2 separate regions of the Homo sapiens genome follow, and region 2 is linked to region 1. Evidence: fine-mapped expression QTL. Tissue or cell type: prefrontal cortex. Region 1 holds a variant in brackets; the other region holds the start of a gene. All regions are shown on one strand. Distances are from middle to middle.

What was found. PIP is the estimated chance that this variant, and not a neighbour inherited with it, causes the effect.
Region 2: ATRIP starts here. The variant in region 1 is fine-mapped to the expression of ATRIP in prefrontal cortex (BrainSeq, PIP 0.91).

The regions. Positions count from the first base shown.
Region 1 is chr3:48,605,175-48,607,853 of GRCh38, reverse strand. It overlaps UQCRC1 (ubiquinol-cytochrome c reductase core protein 1), which reads left to right. Exons shown (of 13, transcript NM_003365.3): 3 at 1,998-2,084. Among named protein-coding and RNA genes, the nearest start is that of SNORA94, 1.4 kb to the right of the region's middle. The variant G/A (reference allele first, on the strand shown) is at 1,085.
Region 2 is chr3:48,445,347-48,448,025 of GRCh38, reverse strand. ATRIP (ATR interacting protein) reads right to left here and starts at 1,289. Exons shown (of 13, transcript NM_130384.3): 1 at 934-1,289. The coding sequence starts at 1,180. ATRIP-TREX1 (ATRIP-TREX1 readthrough) reads right to left here and starts at 1,247. Exons shown (of 15, transcript NR_153405.1): 1 at 934-1,247. It also overlaps a transcript of CCDC51 not described here. RefSeq lists a silencer at 985-1,344.

The DNA.
Region 1 (2,679 bases):
GAGTCCATCTCAAAAAAAAAAAAAGAAATTACTTAATGGGTACAAGGTTTGTTATTCTGGTGATGGATAATTCAGAATCCCTGATTTGACTACTTGTGCATTCTGTGCCTGTAATGACATCACACTTGTGGGCGGGGCACAGTGGCTTACACCAGTAATTCCAGGGCTTTGAGAGGCCAAAGCAGGAGGATCGATTGAGCCCAGGAATAAGAGGTTGCAGTGAGCCATGATTATGTCACTGTACTCTGGCCTGGGTGACAGAGCAAGGCCCTCTGTCTTAAAAAAAAAAAAAAAGAAAAAAATGGAGTTTCAGGTGTGGATAGAAATTTCTAAAAATTGTGCTTGTACCCCATAAATTTATACAATAAAAAAAAGTCTTGGCTGGGCGCAGTGGCTCATGCCTATAATCCCAGCACTTTGGGAGACCGAGGCAGGCGGATCACGAGGTCAAGAGATTGAGACCATCCTGGCCAACATGGTGAAACCCCGCCTCTACTAAAAATACAAAAATTAGGCTAGACGCGGTGGCTCACGCCTGTAATCCCAGCACTTTGGGAGGCCGAGGCGGGCGAATCACAAGGTCAGGAGATTGAGACCATCCTGGCTAACACGGTGAAACCCCGTCTCTACTAAAAATACAAAAAATTAGCCGGGCGTGGTGGCGGGCGCCTGTAGTTCCAGCTACTCGGGAGGCTGAGGCAGGAGAATGCCATGAACCTGGGAGGCAGAGCTTGCAGTGAGCCAAGATCGCACCACTGCACTCCAGCCTGGGTGACAGAGCGAGACTCCGTCTCAAAAAAAAAACACACACACACAAAAAAACAAAAATTAGCTGGGCGTGGTGGTGCACGCCTGTAGTTCCAGCTACTCGGGAGGCTGAGGCGGGAGAATCACTTGAACCCAGGAAGCAGAGGTTGAGTGAGCCGACATCACACCACTGCACTCGTCTCGTGACAGAGTGAGACTCCATGTCAAAAAAAAAAAAAAGTACTTAGGAAAGTAGATGTGAAAAACTTAAATCAGCTGTGAACAAATAGTAAATTAAAAGACTAGACCGTGTGACCAAGTGGGGTGAGTGGTACGT[G/A]TTTCTTTTACATTTTTTTTTTTTTTTTGAGATGGAGTCTCTCTGTCACCCAGGCTGGAGTGCAGTGGCACGATCTTGGCTCACTACATCCTCTGCCTCTTGGGTTCAAGCAATTCTGCCTCAGCCTCCCAAGTAGCTAGGACTACAGGCACGTGCCACCACACCTGGCTAATTTTTGTATTTTTAGTAGAGACAGGGTTTCACTATATTGGCCAGGCTGGTCTCGAACTGCTGACCTCGTAATCCACCTGCCTTGGCCTCCCAAAGTGCTGGGATTACAGGTATAAGCCACCGCGCCCAGCCTGTGGTGCGTGTTTCACAGCAACCAGGAGGCTGTCAAGAAAATTAATATTACCTTATTGGGTGCCAAGGCAACACTGTTTGGTGTTCAGAGCTGATTAAAAACAACAACAAAAAAGATATTATAGGAACAATATTTAGTGTGATAAAATATACAGTCTAAACCAATAGTCCCTTCCTTAATGATGAAAGGATAAAATCATTGCCAGAACAAAGGCAGCGTGTAATTTTTAGAAAGGAAAAAATAAGTTGTTATTTGCAAATGATATGTTGTATGCTTAGACAAAAACAAATAATTAACTGAAAATTGAGAGTGAATTTAAGGATTTGTATGCTGGTGAGACCAGGTAAATGTGCACAGTTAGAAGTGTCCCTGTGGGTCCTTGATAGCCAATCAGGAGAGCAATGATGTGGTGTGACGAGTCATTCGGCTGCCCCTGTTTTCCAAGCATGACTGTGTCCCCAAGCACAGGGGTCCTGCTGGGGCAGCTCTCCCTGACTCCAGGATTCATAAGTCCCTGCCTGGGGCTTGTACTGAGTCACTCAGGTGGGGTGTGAGTAGGGGGCTGGGGAGTGGTTTGTTTGTAACCTTTTCTGGTGGCTTCTTGACCAGGTGGGAGTGTGGATTGATGTTGGCAGCCGTTTTGAGACTGAGAAGAATAATGGGGCAGGCTACTTTTTGGAGCATCTGGCTTTCAAGGTGAGGCTCTTAAAGTCTGTCTCCTCTGGGCTTAGGGCTGCCTGTTGTCCCTCCTGAGGATGAAGGTCAGAAAAATTAGCCTGATTATGGGCCTCAGTTGCGGGGCTGATGTCTGGCTGGCTTTCCTAAAAGGAGCCACATGAGCTTAACCTCTCCTGAGTGGGCACGTATCTGATGAGCCCCTGCCTGAGGCCCTCAGAGCCAAGAGGACCCAAGGAACCATAGGAGCCCCACTTTTCACCAGAGAAGCCAGGCCTGTGGAACACACGTAGATATGCACATGCATTTTAACAAACCCACAGACATGGGCATGCATGCTTGCTTATGAAATGTTCTTCTCTGGTGGAATATCTAGGCATCCCTTGGTTGTAAAGACCCATGTTTTTTAAAGGAATGAAAAACATGGAGAAGGATTATGGGGTGGGCAGGGCCATGGAGCCATAGTAGGCAACCTAGCCAGCTGCAATGTCACAGGTATGTGTGCAGAATTAACGTGTGTGTGCACACCAAGAGATAGCACCACTGTTCTCCACACACAGGACTAGGATTGGGTCCCACAGAGGCCACTAGCATGTATTCACAAACATACAGTCAT
Region 2 (2,679 bases), 160 kb after region 1:
AGAGGACTCATGGTAACACAGATCAGGCAGCTGGTAGAAGCAATGTGAATAGGATAGACTCCAGAGAAGGATTAAGAAGGTAAGCTTGACATGCTTTCCAAATAAATTAGATGTAGAGTCAAGGAAAGGGGAAGAGTCGCTTTGTGCCACTGGATGGAGAGTCGTGCTAGTTACTTCCTTGTGGAACATCTGGTCATCATTCTCTGAATGTCTGCTTTGCCGGCACCATGCTAGAAGTGCTGGAGGAGGACTGGGTTTCCAGGAAATGATCGTGTTGAGTTTAAGGTGCCTTGAGACACCCAAGTACAGATGCAAGGTGCACTCAAAACATTTCTCTTTCTGGGAGTCCTCAAGACTTCACTCACTCCTCAACTAGAATGTAAGCTCCATGAAGGACAGTTTTTGTATTTTGTTCATTGTAAGGTCAGCTGCAGTTCCTCACGTTTGGGCACCTAGCACAGTTTACTGGTTGTATAAAAGAATAAATTTATTTCATCTCTTGCCTGTGTCTGGCTCCTCCCATGCTCACACTGCCCAAGGGAGACAGTGGGCTTCATAAGATCTAAAGCCGCTCAAACTTGTCACAAGAATGGGTCCCCATGCATGGGTAGTGATGGTTCTGATGGTGGTGGTAGGTGTGTTCCAAGGATCTCTGCTTAGAACCAAGAACCAAGTGGCCTAAACTTTAGAAAATAACGTAAAATGTCAACTTAGCCTTCTGTGTTTCAAATCGGCTGTTTGACCTGGCTAATGCATTTCCCCCTAAAATCAAAGGACCTTCTGGAAGACAACCGCTGCTTAAATCAGGGTGTTCCCATATTTTAAAAAGGCGAAAAGGCAGTGCTGGCCGCGAGGTTCCGAAGCCACAGCCATCAAGGGGATCTGGCGCGGTTGACAACTCCCTCCGAGCAAAAGGCCGCGAGGAGCACTCACTGGACACGTCCCGAGCCGCGGCCGGACATTGGCTCAGGGCCTGTGACGCGAGGGTGTCAAGCTCCTCCAGGTCGTCGGCAGTGAAGTCCCCATGCGCGCCGAACGGGTCGTCAGGGTCCGGGGCAGCGGCTGCGGAGAAGCCCCGGGCCCGCTTGCTCGGGGGGTGCCCGGTGCCCGGCGGCGGGCCGGGGCGAGGCGCCGGGGGCTCGCTCCGCCTCTTGCTGCCTGGCGCGGAGGTCCCCGCCATGCTTTCCGCTCACCCCAAGTATCCGACAGCGCCGAGCTAGACTTGCCTGCCGCCAGGCCGGAGAACTGGACCAACCGTCCGCGCGCCGCCGCTTGCCTCCGCCGCGAGTGCCCCGCCCCTGGCCCAGGGGCCAATCAGCTGGCAGGCGGAGGGCGCGGAGGAATGACGAACGTCCGAGCGCGCCGCCACACCCGGCCCCGCCCGGTGTTTAGAGGTCCACGGGCGGGATTCGGCAGGTTTGCTGCAAGGACTCAGTGCGGCGCGACCCGTTACCGGAGAGGCGGGCCGGAGGCGCACCAGCTCCGCCGCGCTGGTGGCTTTGCGCTCCCTCCCTGGCATTCCGTGGAGGAGGGCCGCGCAGGAGCAGCCTGCCCTAGCATTCACGCGTGTTGCGTTTGAGTCGAGCCAGGCATCATTCAGGGATGTGGTCTCCGTGACCTCGCTTTCCTTCTGCCGCCAGACCCACCTCCCACAAACCCCTAGGCTTTCTTGAGGAGAGTGGAATTTGTTGGGTGAGGAGTATGAATAGAGCTGTCGTGTGCAGACATCTTCGGGTTTAGTGAATGTTTCACATGTGTACATTTGAGGTAGGCCCAGGGAGGAGGAAAGTCCAAGGAGGAATGATGTTTGGAGCTGTTCTTGTGTGGGAGGGGGTGGGAGCTGCTCAGGCTGTTAACATCCATTCCTCTGAGTGCTGGACTGTTTTTTTTTCCTAAGCTCTGGTTGTATAGAATAGGGCTCAGGAGGTCAAGGAAGTCCCCCTGTAAATGGCACCTGCGCTGTCCTACAAGTTGAGTCAAGTTAGCAGGATAGAGGGGTAGGAGGCTGGCACATAAGACTAACACGAGAATTCTACATTGAAAGGGAGGCCACACAAAGGCCAGGTAAGAGTTACCGGTGGCGAACAGAGGTAAAGCTTCACAAAGGAGCAGCAATTTGAGGTGGGCTTGCGTGCCTGACAGATTTTATTGGGCAGCTGTGGTGTGCAGAAGTTAGCCGCAATAGAGAATTTGGCAATGGAGAGTAACAGGAGCAAGACTCTTTCAGCCTTACCTGCTCAGTGCCAAACTTCACCTGTGAGTGTCCTAGGAATATTTGTGAAAGCATTAAATGAAAAGAGTAAATGAAAAAGAGAGTGCTATCAGGGCCTATAATGTCTAAGGAGTTTAAAATTTTTTGGAGCAACTGGTAGTCTCCGTCAGATAGCTTCCCAAGTGTTGCATGCTTAATTGCTGCAGGACTCTGGTCCTGGAAAGAGACAGGACTGTTCATTTGTTAAAGAGGGATAGGTTCCACCAAGTAACTTGCTTTCAGGAACAGTGTGAATCACTGGTGCTCAGGTTTGTTTTAGCAGCATACGGCTGGGTGCCAGCTAGCAAGGCCCCACAGGGAATGCCTGAAGCCTACTGAAGGGTGCTACTGGCTGTGCAACTTTCTGGAGAGGACCAACACAGGCTTCCCCCTGCCCCCTCTCCCGCGTTAATATCTAGTACATTAAT